2 separate regions of the Homo sapiens genome follow, and region 1 is linked to region 2. The links come from fine-mapping of genetic effects on gene expression. Tissue or cell type: whole blood. Region 2 holds a variant in brackets; the other region holds the start of a gene. All regions are shown on one strand. Distances are between the middles of the regions.

Region 1 (8,088 bases), 73 kb before region 2:
TAGTTAAATGCCAGACCAGAGCAGTTGCACTCTACAACCTCATTCTGAGGGAGGCGCTTTCCCAAGACAGGTCATTAGTCTGTAGATAAAAGGCGCAAAGTTAAGTTCCTAATGACTAAGAGTTTATTTACAAGTCAAATCCTTACTTTGCCAATTACTTTTATACTGGACACAAAATGCATCTCCTGTCCTGCTGGTCTTCCTGGTGTATCTTTCTTCTTCCAGGAGTCCTGAAAAGAGATTTTGGATTGATCTCTGGAAGTCAATATCCACTGCCAAAAAATAATTCCACATGCATCTGCAATCTGCCTGTCTGTGCCCTGCTACTCCGCAACCTTCTCAGTGCAGACGTTAAATCATTCACTCCTTGGGGCTGGGCGTGGTGGCTCATGCCTGTAATCCCAGCACTTCAGAAGGCCAAGTCAGGGCAATCACTTTAGGGAAGGAGTGTGAGACCAGCCTGGCCAACATGGTGAAAGCCCATCTCTACTATAAATACAAAAATTAGCTGGATGTGGTGACATGTACCTGTAATCCCAGCTACTCAGGAGACTGAGGCAGGAGAATCGCTTGAAAGCGGGAGGCAGAGGTTGCAGTGAGCCAAGATCGCACCACTGCACTCCAGCCTGGGCAACAGAGAGAGACTCCATCTCAAAAAAAAAAAAAAAAAAAAATCATTTATCCCTTGGATAGGCTTCCCCCACCCCACATTGACATATTTGATATATCTATGTCCATGATTAAAATGTACAGTTAGGGCCGGGGACGGTGGCTCACGCCTGTAATCCCAACACTTTAGGAGGCCGAGGCGGGCAGATCACCTGAGGTCGGGAGTTTGAGACCAGCCTGACCAACATGGAGAAACCCAGTCTCTACTAAAAATACAAAATTAGCTGGGCGTGGTGGCACGTGCCTGTAATCCCAGCTACTCCGGAGGCTGAGGCAGGAGAATCACTTGAACCCAGGAGGCGGAGGTTGCAGTGAGCCAAGATCACGCCATTGTTACCCAGCCTGGGTAACAAAAGCGAAACTCTGTCTCGAAAAAACCAACCAAACAAACAAAACAAATGTGCAATTAGTTATTTAGGACATTTAGCTTTGAATTCTTAGCTAAAACCTCCAGGTACTCACGGAACTGTCAGAAGTCTCAGAGGGAACCAGCAAAAACTGTTTCAGAAGGAGAAGTGGTAAATGGACTTCCTTCCATGTTCACTTGAATTTCGGGGAAGATACTGCTGCTTATGTTGAAGTAATCTCTATGGGCAGGTGTTGAAACAGGGCTGGCCTGAGGAGTGCCTAAGCAGGGCTGGTTTCCCAGAGCAGGGGCACTTGGAGCCAGCTTTGGAATAAAAGGTATCAGGACTGGTGAAGAAAAGGGGTAGAGTTCTAGGGAAGGAATGATCAGGAAAGTAATTCCCCAGCTGGAGACATTGGTCAAATAGGAAACTGGCCTGTGCCACATGCCCTGCTCTCCTCATTTTGCTCATTATCATAGTTCACCGCAGCCTCGAACTCCTGGGCTCAAGCAATCCTCCTGCCTCAGCCTCCCAAAGCTCTGGGATTATAGGTGTGAGCCACTGTGCTCGACCTAAGAAGTTCTTGAGAGGGGAAAATAACCTTTTGAAAATTGAAACTGAAACATAAAAAAAAGAAGACAAATTTTATCCCCTCCCACAAAAAGAATGAAAAGCTAGGTCTCTCTGCAGGAAATGGAAGACTGTCTTAGCTCAATGGATGTGTATAGCTGGAATCCATTGCTCTGAAGATTCCAGATTAATAGGAAGGAGGGCATTAGCAATGTTTTATAGGGCCCTTCCTAAGTTTGGTAGGCAGTGGGTCCCACTGATGCTCACATTCTAATCCCTGGAACCTGTGCATATGTTATTTTTACATGACAAAGGGGGTATTGCATATGTGATTAAGGTTAAGGACCCTGAGATGGAAGATTATCCTGGATTAAATGGTTGGGTCCACTCTAATCATATGGGTCCTTAAAAACTGAGCATCTTTTCCAGCCTAAGTCAGAGTCAGAGGAAGATGTGACCACAGAAGAATGGTCAGAGAGATGTAATGCTGCTAGCTTTGAAGATGGAGGAAGGGGGCCACAAGCCAAGGTATGTGGGTGGCCTCTAGAAGCTGGAAAAGGCAAAGAAACAAATTCTCCCGCAGAGTCTCTAGCAAGGAACACAGACATGCTGACACCTTGATTTTTAGCCCAGTGAGACCTGTGACAGACTTCTAACGTACAGAACTGTAAGATAATATGTCTGAGTCATTTTAAGCTACTCAATTTGTGGTGATTTGTTAAAGCAACAATGGAAAACTCATACACCATGGGACAGCAATATGAGGCAGACACTGCCATTGTCATTTACAGTCATTTAACTGACATATAAAAGAACTAGGTTCTTGCCCAATGTCACACAGCTGTCAAGTGATATTAATCCAAGAATTAATGTCTTCGGACACTGGTCTTCAGAGCTCATGCTCTAACTATTGCACAATACCACCTCCCAGGATGTTTGTGGGGAGGAGGCTGGAGGTAGGTTTCAAGTAAAAGCTCACTAAGGGTGAGTGAGTTACACAGCTGGATAAAGAGCTTGGTTGACTCAAAGGGAAGCTTTTCAAAGCCCTGGATTAATGTAGAGCAGAAAGTAGTTGTTCCTCAGGCTAGGTTTCCATTCTGTTCCTGTTTAGTCTTCCTTCCTCCCTGCTTTGATCATGACAAACTGGTTTACTCAGTGTCCCACAAACATGTCATTAAGCACGACTTTTTTCTACACTGATACCTTTGTCCAAGCCTCCCTGCCTCTCTCTCCCACCTCCCTGCTGCTAACCCCCTTTCAAGAGCTCTCACCCCTTCTCAACCCAGCTACTCTGACCTGGGGGCACCTGAGTTCACGGACTTTGGTATGAATTACACATCGCCCTGGGCCTTTTTTTTTTTTTTTTTTTTTGGTATCTCTGCCATCAAGTGTCTTAACTTCTCATCATTTAATTTTTTATGTCGCTTATAATTTATTTCCAAGTTGACTGGCCGCTGTGGACTTCTTGCAGGCGGGGACATGAATCCACCTGGAGCGGTCTTCATGGTCAACTGGGATCTTTATTCGTTCCTAAAATAAATCTTACTATCACATGCAATTTTGCTTTTCGTGAGTGCATGTTTTCCTTTCTCTGACTCCCCACGACCCAGAGTACATCAGGCCCTTGTTAAATGTCCCCGTGGCTCTTATTACAGATTCAGGGTGATGATCTGAGTGTCCACCTTGCTGATTACTACGGTACCCCCGCGTGTGGCACAGGGTGTGGCACACACAGAAGACAAGGAGATATGTTAAAGCCCAAAGGCCAGGCACAAGACGCCCAGGAGGGACTAGTCGCGAGAGAGGGCAGGAGGCCAGCTGGGTACCCGGCCGCCGCCCGTAGCCCCAGCTCACAGCCCCCGCTCACTCCTGCAGGTGCGGGGGCGGGAACCGGGTCGCGCGCCTTCTGCCCGGCGTTCCGCGCGCCCCCGCGCCGCCGGCCCGAGCGCCCCGCCCCCGCCCCGCCCCTTCGCGCTCGCGCCACTTGGAGCTCGCCCCCGTCGTTCCCGCGGCGCCGCGCCTCGCTGGCTCCTCAGCTTCCAGCCAAAATGGCGGAGAACAGCGAGAGTCTGGGCACCGTCCCCGAGCACGAGCGGATCTTGCAGGAGATCGAGAGCACCGACACCGCCTGTGTGGGGCCCACCCTCCGGTAAAGATCTCATCCCACCGGGACTTCGGCCCCCCGCCCCACGCCGGCCGCTCCTCACGAGCCGGGCGGGGCGTCCGCCGCCGGCCGCGCGCGAAGCTCCCCGACAGGTGGTGCGCGCGGGGGCGGGCGGGGGCGCTCGCGGGTGGCGGAACTCTAGCCGGTACCCGGGCGGGACCGAGAAGGCGGCTGCACCTGTCGGCGCGGCCTGCCTCCACCGCTGTAGCTGTCACCCCGCAGCCGGTGGGTGTGGCTGCTGCAGGGTCTCTAACCCCGGGCCCCGCGCTGCGGCCCCGCGTTCTCCTCCTGGCTGCGGCCCCCGGGCCCGAGGACACTTCTGGGGCCTGCCCCCGTCTCGCTCGTGGTGGGGCTGAGGGCTGCTCGGCCGCGGGCATGCCAGGCTAGGGTCGACAGCAGGCACCCGGCGTGACGGAGGTGCCAGGTCGCGCGCGGGTGGAAAGCCTGGCGCGCCGGGCTGCCGCGGGCGTGGGAGAATTGAAATTGAGCGGGAGACGCCGGCCCGCTTTCCCCCTACTCCCCCGCGCGGCCGCAGTGGGCGAGAAGAGAGCGTGGGCTGGAGAAGAGAGCGTGGGCTGGAGGAGAGCAGCTGCTTGCTGCTTGGGAACACGCTAGGGTGACCCTGCGCTCGCGGGATCTAAGCTGCTTTGGAGGCAGAACAGCTTTTACTTATTTACAAACATTTCATTAAAATTGCATTAATTTTTCCGTTTAAATCGAGTTCCTCCCCATTCATTTTAAGAATAGTACTAGGTAATGCATATTCCATGCCAAACTGAGTACCTGCTGTTCCAATAGAATATTATTAGCCAGGCAACGTAATGAGCCATGGGTTAGGTTAGGCACTGTCTTCAAGAATAAGTTCCTTTTACATATAAGGTTTCATCTTTTGGAGTGATAATAATGATAAATGAAGTTATTATTCACTTAGGGAACTTGAGACTGATTATGCTTTATCATTAGTATTCTTCAGAATACACTTCCTAGAATAGAGCGCTGTACAGTTTGTGGACCTGTGAATATAGTGTAAATTGAAGCCAGTTCAAGTTATGTAAATACACCTTGCCCTTAAGAGTCAGGAGGCCTGGGTTCTTGTTTTGCCCTAATTCTGCCTCTGATGAAATGTGCAGTCATGGAAAAAAATTATTTAACCTCTCTGGATCTCGGTTTCCTTATTTGTAGAATGGGGAGGGGAGAGTATTCAGATGCCCAGGAAACTCAGAACATTAGGGACCTTGCCTATTTGTTCACTACTGTATCCCTAACACCAAGCATGTGGTAGGCATGTTATAAATTTTTGTCACATAAGGTTTCTGCTATGATATGATAATGCATAATTAGTGCATTTCCTTAATTTTCCAACATTATTATTTCTTTTAATAAACTGTATACTTGGTAATGAAAGAAGTAAGATTAAAAGGAAGCTTTGTTTTCATCACTGCATCTTGAAACTGAGAGTGCAGTGTGTGATAAAGTTACTAGAGTAGTTTATTTGTGAAAATAGTACTGGTTATGAAGGAGGTGCTTCATCTTAGGAAAATGTGCTAGGTAGTGTCCTTGAAAAAAGATGAAATTAACTTAGAAGAAAAATTTGAAATATATTGAGAGATTTTTGGGACACTCAGGAACAGAATATGTGTATTCATAGTGTTATTCTGTTCTTTTTTGCTGGGCAGTTGTTTCAACTGGCTCATTTTGTTTGAACCCACTCTCTTTTCTTTAGCAATCCCTGGTGACTCATACTTATCCCATATATATGTATATTTGTGTCTCATTTATAAGCAGACGCTTTTTGCACACATATAGAGGGTACTGCTAGCAGTCTTTTCTCTTGAACATTGTTTAAGCTACTACTATTTTTTCCCTTTTTTTTCAGGTTTCACGAAGTGAAGTGTTAATATTGCATTTTTAAAAACCATTTATTATGGAAAAATTTTAAATGTTTAAAAAAGTAAAATAGTGTAATGAACCACCATGAACTGTCATCTAGCTTCAATTCATTCCCTGGCCAGTCTTGTTTGATCTCTTCCCTTATCTACTCCCTATCATCTTGGATTATTTTGAAGGAAATCCAAGACATCAATTTATTCATAAATATTTTAGTATTAAGATTAATTTTTGTTGTTATTTCCTAATTATCTTTTAGCTGGCCTGTAGACTTATCATTTTATTTATATTGTTTTTTCTCAGCGGCGGGATTTTTCAGCCTGATCTTTTCCTGAGAAGCACGTGATAAACTTTCCGCAGGCCCTGACATATAACATGGTTCTTTGACCACAACAGAAGTATATTAGAAATCAGTAGTTAAAAAAAACAAAAAAACAAAAACTATCTGGAAAATTCCCAAATATTTGGTCATTGACTAACACACAAAAAATAAATCAAAAGAGAAATTAGAAAGTATTTTAAACTGAGTAAAATGAAAACACAGCATATCATTTGTGAATGCAGCTAAAGAAATAGTTAGAAGTTTATGGCACCAAACACCTCTACTAGAAAAGAATGGCTTCAGCTCCTAGCCTAAGAAACTAGGAAAAGAGGAGCAAATGAAATTCAGAAGAGTGGAAGAAAGGAGATGGTAAAGATCAGAGTGGTATTCAGTGAGACAGAAATACAGAAAGTCAGTGAAACTCAAAACTGGTTCTTTGAGGAGACTGTAAAATTGATAAACCTTTAGGGGTAGAAAAGGAGACGATACAAATTAAAAATAACAGGGCCAGGCGCGGTGGCTCACGCCTGTAATCCTAGCACTTTGGGAGGCCGAGGCAGGCAGATCACTTGAGGTCAGGAGTTTGAGACCAGCCTGGCCAACATGGTGAAACCCCGTCCCTACTAAAAATACAAAAAAATATTAGCTGGGTGTGGTAGCACACGCTTGTAATCCCAGCTGCTCGAGAGGCTGAGGCAGGAGAATCGCTTGAATCCGGGAGGCGGAGGTTGCAGTGAGCCGAGATTATGCCACTACTCTCTAGCCTGAGCGACGGAGCGAGACTCCATCTTAAAAAAACAAAAACAAAAACAAACAAAAAAAAAACAAAACCAACCAACTAACCAAACAAACAAAAAAACGGGAGTGAGAGAGGTTACGTGACTATAGATTCTACAGACATTAAAAAAAGGTTAAGAAATATTATGAATAGGCTGAGTGCAGTGGCTCATGCCTGTAATCCCAGCACTTTGGGAGGCTGAAGCAGGAGGATTGCTTGAGCTCAGGCATACAAGACCAGCCTGGGTAACATAATGAGACCTTGTCTCTACAAATACAAAAATTAGCTAAGTGTGGTGGTGTGTGCCTGTGGTCCCAGCTACTCGGGAGGCTAACGTGGGAGAATGGCTCAGAGTCTGGGTCGTTAAGGCTGTAGAGAGCTGAGATTGTGCCACTGCACTCCAGCCTAGGCAACAGAGTGAGACCCCCATCTCAAAAAATGTATATATATTATGAACAACTTCATGCTCATACATTTGGCAACTTAGCAGAAATGGACAAATTAGTTGAAAGATACAAAGTATTATCAAAGTTCACTTAAGAAGAAATAGCTGAATAGCCCTGTATCAATTAAAGAAAGGGAATTTTGCTGTTATAAGCCTTCCCCAAAAGGAAACTCTAGGCCCAGATAGTTTTACTGGTGGATTCTACATCTTTAAGGAAGAATTAATGCCAATTCTACAAAGACTTTTCTGGAAAATTGAAGAGGAGGGAATATTTCCCAGCTCATTTTGAGGTCAACATTAACCTGATACCAGAACTAAAGAAAGAAAGACATAACTAGAAAAGGAAACTAAATCAGTATTCCTCATACACACAGATTTTACAAAAAATTTTAGAGAATTAAATCCATATATGTGGATTTAAAAGTATAAAATACATCTATATAAAAAGTATATTCTGTATATGTATATATGTGTGTGTATATATATGTGAAGAATACATCATGATCAAGTGAGGTTTATTTCAAGAAAGATGCTGGCTTAACATTTGAAAAATCAATGTAACATTGTTCACCATATTAAACAAAGAAAAGTTGTATGATCATATATGTGGAGAAAGCATTGACAAAATCGAATATTAATTCCTGATTTTAAAAACCCTCAGAAACTAGTAATGGAAATTCCTCAGCTTAAAACAGGGCATCTATGAAAATCTAGAGCTAAATTGTGCTTAGTGGTAAGAGTCTGAATGCTTTTCCTCTAAAATCAGGAATGAGGTAAGGATATTCATTCTCACCACTTCTATTCAACACTGTACTAGAATGTTGAATATAAGGCCGGTATAATAAGACCATTTAAAAAAAAAGCATCTAGTTTGGAAAACCGTCTTTATTTGCACACTGTGTGATC
Region 2 (8,105 bases):
TCCACAGAATCTTCTATTGAACTTACCTTTTATCGTCCTTTTCAATTTTTTTTTAAATTTAGCTACTATCATAGGAACCTTGTTATTCCCAATTAATTTATAAGTTTTGCCTTGCCAATGAGATTTTAAATTCTTTTTCTAAGGACATAATTGGGATGCAGTAAGAATTTTTAGTTGAACCATACGACTATGTGCTCATGACTGCATTTGTGAATGGGTGAACAGCTGAGTGTTTACTATGTGCATTTCTTTTTTTTTTTTTTTGAGACAGGGTCTTACTCTGTCACCCAGGCTGGAGAGCAGTTGGCATAATCATGGCTTACTGTAACCTCAAACTCTTATGTTCAAATGCTCCTCCTGCTTCAGCCTCCCAAGTAGTTGGAACTACAGGCACATGCCTGTATATACTATATCCAGCTAATTTTTTTATATTTTTTGTAGAGATGGGGAACTGCCGTGTTGTCCAGGCTGGTCTTGAACTCCTGGCTTCAAGTGGTCCTTCTGCTTTGGCCTCCTAAAGTGCTGGGATTGTAGGCGTGAGCCACCACACCCAGCCACTATGTACATTTCTGCTGTATATCTGAGGATGAGGTGATACATATGTACATAGTCACACAAATATATATGTAGTATATATGTAATATATTTGTGTGAATATGTATGCACATATGTGTATGTGTGTATATATGTGTATATATGTATATATATGCGTATGTAGTGAATGTCTGCTATTGTACTGAATACAGACAAATGAACAGCTTCAAACAGTTAAATGCCTTCCTAATGTGGAATTAGTATGTCCTGATTAGTCCCTTGAAATTATTATTAGGTTTTTTGTCCCTTTAAATTAAATAAATATTTTTGACCTCTGCTTTTTTGTTCTTTCTAAATATTCAGAGGACCTCTGTATTATTTTCTCCTTTGAGGTTCAGAATGTTGAAAATAGACCATCTAGTCTTCTTACTTCAATTTTCCCCTTCCTGTTCTGTATATCTTTCCTGCTGGGAGCATCACCATCATGCCTTACCCCCAGACCTTTACATTTAGAGGAGCTTGGTGGTTTCCCTGTTCTCTCAGATCTATTTTACTACTATACTGCACTACATTTTGTTTTTATCATTTTCCCTAATAAGCAATGTTATAGTAAAAATAATTTAAGTTCACTCTGGAGATTCACATGAGTACAAATGTGTTCCTTTAAAAAGGGTTTATGTATTTCTCAAGTTTGAGAAACTTTATAGTACTACATTTCATCAATTGTAAGGCATTTTTTTTTCCACATAACATTTCAGAATATAGGATACATCTTAAAGATGATGGTGTTATAGTTTTAAGTGGTGGTGTTTTTTCTTTCTTAGCAGTCTGTAAAATAATACTGATAGTGTCTTTAATTCAGTGCAATAATGACCAATCATATGACATAGCTGCGTAAGAACAGGAACTTTGTCTATAGCCAAATCATGAAATCTGTGTATCATTTTTACCCAAAACAATAATAAGGTATCTAGTTATCCATAGCAGTTTTCTGTAATCTATCATACATATTAAAAATATACAATTTCTCTCCTTGGTTACCTTAAGTTGAAAACAGTCCACAGTGATAATAAACATACTACAAAGAATAAACTGCTGAAGAAATGCCAAAACAAAATAAAGAAGGTTTTGCGTTTATAGTGTATGCTTTCTATGGGGGAATTGAATAAATGTTGTAACACAAAGTTCATGAATCTTCTTGCCTATCTTTAACTTTACATTATCTAATGGTGGTCTAATAGTTTGACCTATAATTTTTTTAAAAATGGTTTAATTTTCAGATCTTAACTGTTCAGGATCTTGTTGATTTTTCCCCTGTTTATCGATGTTTGCACATTTATTCTGTTTTGGTAAGTATGTTTTATATTTATGTATATATAGCTTTATATTATTTAAAAGGCATGTATGTATTTTAGGCCCTAAAAATTGATCATATGCTGTAAATCTTCACATAATTCTTTGTGAAATATCCACTCTGTGTAAGGCACTTACATTTTTTGTTTACTTATCATAGTGTAATTTCAAGTGATATACCATTTCATGTATATTTTAAGAACCTTGTAATAGTATACTTCCATTTCTCCCTATTGCCTTTGTGCTGTTGTTACATCACAGTTCTTATAAGTTACTTTTACATGTGTATTCCATACTACATTGCTCTTATTTTTGATTTAATGTTCCTTTTTAAAAATAACTGCTTTATTGAGATCTAGTTCACATACGAAAAAACTTACCCTTTTAGAGTATACAATTCGGTGGTTTTAGCATATTCACAAGGATGTGCAACCATTACCACTACCTAATTCCAGAAATACCCATTACCCACCCCTCCAACCACCCCCAAAACATCAAAAATGTGTATCTGGCTGTTATTAGGTGGTGTGTTCTATAGATATTTGTTAGATGTAGTTGGTTTATAGGGTTGTTCACGTCTTTTACTTCCTTGTTGGTCTTCTGCCTATTCTGTTATTGAAAGTAGAAGTATTGGAGTCTTCAACTATAACTGTTGAATTGTCCATTTTTTCTTTCAGTTTTGCCAGTTTTTTATTCATGTATTTTTAGGGCCTTGTTGGCAGGTGAATATATGTTTATAATTGTTATGTCTTCCTGATGGATTGACCTTTTTTAAAAAAATCATAAAATATCTTTCTTCATAATATTTTTTGTCTTAAGGTCTGTTTGGCTTTAATTAGTATAGCCACTCCAGCTTTCTTCTGAGCACTATTGGCATAGCATGTTTTTCCCCATCCTTTTACTTTCAGTCTCTTTGTATCTTTGAATCTAAAGTATGTCTCCAGTAGGTAACACATAGTTCAGTCTGTTTTTTTAAATCCAGTCTGCTGATCTCTGCCTTTCAATTGGAGTGTTTAGTTCATTTACATTTAATGTAATTACTGGTAAGGTAGGATTTATGTCTGCTCTGATGTTTGCCATTTGTTTTAACATGTCTTATATCTTTTTTGTTCCTCTATTCCTCCATTAGTACTGTCTTGTGCATTAAATAGATATTTTCTTATGTACCATTTCATTTCCTTTGTCATTTCCTTTTTTTTTTTTTTTTGTGCTGGAGTTTTGCTCTTGTTGCCCAGGATGGAGTGCAATGGCATGATCTCAGATCACTGCAACCTCCGCCTCCTGGGTTCAAGTGATTCTCCTGCCTCAGCCTCCCAAGTAGCTGGGTTTACAGGCACCCGCCACCATGGCCAGCTAATTTTTTGTATTTTTTTAGTAGAAATGGGGTTTCACCTTGTTGGCCAGGCTGATCTCGAACTCCTGACTTTAGGTGATCCACCCGTCTCGGCCTCCCAAAGTGCTGGGGTTACAGGTGTGAGCCACCTAGCCCAGCCTATTTTCTTAGTATTAGCCCTGAGGATTGCAATTAACATCTTACTTTAAAACAATTCAGTTAGATTAATACCCTTTTCTTTGTGCTATTGTTTTCTTTCTTTCTTTTTTTTTTTTTTTGAGATAGGGTCTTGCTCTGTCACCCAAGATGGAGTGCAGTGGCGTGATCACAGCTCACTGCAGCCTTGACCTCTTTGGGCTCAAGCGATTCTCCCACTTGAGCCTCCCAAGTACCTGGGACTACAGGCTCATGCCACCATGCTTGGCTAATTTTTGTATTTTTGGTAGAGGTAGAGTTTACAGTATAGTCTTACTGTTTTATGCTGTAAATTTAATAAACTTTCATTAGCACAATAACTTCTGGCTGGTATATATAACCAAAAATTATTTGGTAAAGCTAATTTCTTTCTTTTTTTTTGAGACAGAGTCTTGCTCTGTTGCCTAGGCTGGAATGCAGTGGTGCCATCTTGGCTCACTACAACCTGCGCCTCCTGGGTTCAAGCGATTCTACTACCTTAGCCTCCCAAGTAGCTGGGATTACAGGCGCCTGCCACCACGCCTGACTAATTTTTGTATTTTTAGTAGAGACGGGGTTTCTCCATGTTGGCTAGCCTGGTCTCGAACTCCTGACCTCAGGTGATCTGCCCACCTCAGCCTCCCAAAGTGCTGGGATTACAGGCATGAGCCACCGTGGCCGGCCACTAATTTCTTATTATTGTTACAACTCTTCTTCCTTCTACTTGTTATTCCAGTTCTGCCATTTCCCAGCATTATAGCATTGGGAAAATTACTTCCCTTATTTGAGTTCCTCATTTGCAAAATATGGTTAACAATTTCTAAGGCTATGTTGGATATTATAGTCAATATAAATAATAAAAGTGCTTGGTATAGGACCTGGTATAAAATATCAGGCAGTAAATGTTAAAGGGGTTATTATAAAAGGGTTACATTAATATGTATGCTTTCAAGGACTGTTGACTGTAAGTCTACTTTAGCCAAAAAAGCTCTTTGTCCGAAATCCTAAGGTATCCTACTCTATTTGATCAAATATGAGTATTCCATGAAAGGAAAATAGGTATAATGTCAAAAAAAGGGATTCTCTTTGGAAAATGCTGCACACAATATTCACAATATAGCTTATCATAGCTTATCATTTTTCAGACTTTGAGAAGTCCTAAGAGCTTCTCTGACTTTACTTAGCTGGCTGTATCCTAAACTTTGAGTATAGGGATCATTTTTTTTCTTAGAATACTGAATATTGAATGAGTTAATTTCCTAATTATCTGATGAATACCAAATATAGTGTGCGAATTGCTGCCCTAGGAGTTTTTAAGGGTATGTGAAGGCTTTCCAAGGGGCCCTGGGCTAGAAACTTTAGGGAAATAAATTTTAGGTCCAGGCTTTCTTTCTAAAAATGATCTGTTTGGGAAGCCCAACCTGTCTTCAGAATAGTTCTTCTCTTACTGTTGGTGCTCTGCTCAGATTCCCTTGGGTCCCTTTTCAGCTAGAAGCTACCCCACATCAGATTACCAGTGTTGAGATTAATAAGTTATGGTGTGTAGATATGGTGTTTGAAAGCCTAGCTTCCTTGCCTAGATTAGGACAACACTGAGGTATA[A/T]CTTATGCTCTGAAGTTGCAGTGTGGAATCAGGCACACAATTTTTTGCCTTAGATGGTACCCTTGGTTGGCTTCCTCTTGTTCCTTTCACTTTCTTCACTTCTTGAACAGTTTCCTTCTTCAACATTTCTTTAGTTTATCATTGATCTCAGATTCTGTTCCTAGGACAGCTACCTAAGATAGTGACCATATTAGTTATCAATTGCTGTATAACACACTGCCTTAAAACAACAAACATTATTATTCCACAGTGTCAGCAGTCAGGGAGTCGCTTAGCTGGCTGGTTCTGGCTACAGGTCTCTTATGAGATTCTAGTCAAGATGTCATGAGGACTGCTGTCATCTGAAGGCTTAACAGGGGCTGGAGGATTTGCCTCTATGATGGCTGCTGGTAGAAGGCCTCAGTTCCTTGCCACATGGAGTGTCTACTAGGCTGCCTGAAAGTCCTCATGACATGGCAGCTGGCTTCCCCCAGAGTGAGTCATCCAGGAGAGAAACCAAAGTGGAAGCCATCATTCCTTTTATAACACAATCTCAGAAGTGACATACCATTACTTCTGCTTTATCCTATTCATCACATAGATGAACTCAGGTGCATTGTGGGAGGGGACCACACAAGGGTATGAATACCATGAGGTGGGGATCTTTGGAGGCTGTTTTGAAGGCTACCACGTTTACTTTATAAATGAAAATCATACCCTTCACTGATACTCAGTACTACCATGGTGCATTGTCTTGAGGTGTAAAAGCTTCCAGGGTGCCAAATAAAGGAGAAGTCTCCTTTAATTATTAATCAAGGAACTGTATTGGGAGTTCCTTCCTTTCCATTTTTGCACAAATTTCTGTTAAGGGTAAATCATATTAGGAACAGTATATTTTGTCCTGTGGTAGGATATTCTGAATTTAGATATGTAGTAGGGAGTAATGACATAGGTAGGAATAACGATAGTTTCCTTTTAATGACCTGTTCTTTTTCCCCCTAGCTATTGACAACAAGTAATTGCTTTTAAGAGAGAGTCCCTGTGAGAGTAGAGCAAAGAGAACACAGAGAATTTTGATTGCTAAAACTATGTCCTATGTGTTTAAATGTAAACAATGATTTTGACTAATCTTAATACTCTTCGTTAGGATGTATCATTTGCTGTAAAGAAAAACACCTTTAAACAGCCAAATGATATGGGTTAGTAAAGCTGTATCTTTTAAACATGAATGGAGTGTTTTCTGGGGCTGCCAAAAATTTTAAGTTACACTGGCTAACTTTATTTTTTCATATTCATGTACATTATGATTCGATAAAGTGGGTAAAGCTGTTTAGCTGTCATAAGTCTAAGTCCAATTGTTTAATGTTTTCTACTTCATATTTAAAGTAAACCCTGGCTATTCATTTTTAGCAGCATATACCATTCTCTTTTGTTAAACACCCAGAAAAAGGATGGTCATCATATCTAATGAAATTAATGGAGTTATGCCTGATTTTATTGTTTGATTTATTGATTAATAGGGGTGCATTTTTTAATGTACTTTTATTTATTTTAGTAGCTTTAGGGGTACAAGTGGCTTTTGGTTATGTGGATGAATTGTATAGTAATGAAGTCTAGGCTTTTAGTGTACTTGTCACCTGAATAGTGTACATTGTACCCAATAGGTGATTTTTTTCATCCTTCACCCCACTTCTGAATCTCCAATGTTCATTATACCACTCCACATGCCTCTGTATACCCATAGCTTAGCTCCCACTGATGAGTGAGAACATGCAGTATTTGGTTTTCTGTTCCTGAGTTCTGTCACTTAGGATAATGGTCTCTAGTTCCATCCAGGTTGCTCCAAAAAATATTATTTTATCCTTTTTTATATCCCTGATTTTTATACTTGGTTGTATTTAATTATTTCCAAAAGTTGAACAGGTTTTATGTATGTCCACATGTTAATGGAAGGCATGTAGTATTGTTTATTATGCTCCTTACTTCATAAAAGCTTAGAATTTTAGTTGTATATTACATTGCATTATTGTAAATTAAGTAATGAAAACAGAATAAGTAATGAGAAACTGATTTATTGTCTTGATTTTAAGGGTGTGAATGCACAAAACAATCACACTGGGTTTAAATAATATTGACTGCTTTTTGTAATTCCATAAATTTTTTTTTTTTTAAGACAGAGTCGTGCTCTGTTGCCCAGGCTGGAGTGCAGTGGTGTAATCTTGGCTCACTGCAACCTCTGCCTCCCAGGTTCAAGCAATTATCATGCCTCAGTCTCCCAAGTAGCTGGGATTACAGGTGTGTGCTACCACATATGGCTAATTTTTGTATTTTTAGTAAAAACAGGGTTTCACCATGTTGGCCAGGTTGGTCTCGAACTCCTGGCCTCAAGTGATCCGTCCTCCTCGGCCTCCCAAAGTGCTGGGATTACAGGCGTGAGCCAATGCACCTGGCGTTGGTGATATTATGGTGTAAACCCATAATTTCTCAGTGGTTTTCATGATGTAATTTTGTTGTTATTGTTTGTTTGTTTTGTTTAAGAGATGGGGTCTTGCTGTTGTCCAGCCTGGAGTGCAGTGGTGAGATCATAGCTCACTGCTGCTTTGAATTCCTGGGTTCAAGTGATCCTCCTGCCTCAGCCTCCTGAGTAGCTGGGACTACAGGTGCATGCCACTATGCCTGGCTAATTAAAAAAAAAATTTTTTTTAAAGAGATAGCTTGACATGCTGCCTAGGCTGATCATGAACTCCTGGCCTTGAGCAATCCTCTGATTTCAGCCTCATCTTTACTTTTTTTGAAGTGAAACTTGGAGTCAGACTTTTCTTGAGAGACACTTAGTACAATTTGACTTATTAGTTTGATCATGAGGACTGGCTTTGATAATTAGATTTTAGGTTTTAGGGTGGACTTTTTAAAAAAAAAAAAAAACAAATGCCCTAAGTCTGCAGGTCAGAATTTGAACCAGAAAGTATATTATTAATGGGGGAAAAAAAAGTCTCACTCATTCTATTAAGATATTTATTTCCAATAAAAATGTACTTTTGGGTTTACTCATTATCAAAATGTATGATATACTTAGGCCATTTGCATCAGTTTAGTACTGATTATGATAATTTCACTCAGAAGAAAAAAA

What was found. PIP is the estimated chance that this variant, and not a neighbour inherited with it, causes the effect.
Region 1: it holds the start of EXOC6, and the variant in region 2 is fine-mapped to the expression of EXOC6 in whole blood (TOPMed, PIP 0.96). The same link has a PIP of 0.9 or more in monocytes.

The regions. Positions count from the first base shown.
Region 1 is chr10:92,844,900-92,852,987 of GRCh38, forward strand. It overlaps EXOC6 (exocyst complex component 6), which reads left to right and starts at 3,621. Exons shown (of 22, transcript NM_019053.6): 1 at 3,621-3,735. The coding sequence starts at 3,635. RefSeq lists silencers at 3,438-3,587, 3,728-4,067.
Region 2 is chr10:92,918,168-92,926,272 of GRCh38, forward strand. It overlaps EXOC6 (exocyst complex component 6), which reads left to right. Exons shown (of 22, transcript NM_019053.6): 8 at 1,815-1,883. Among named protein-coding and RNA genes, the nearest start is that of EXOC6, 74 kb to the left of the region's middle. The variant A/T (reference allele first, on the strand shown) is at 4,997.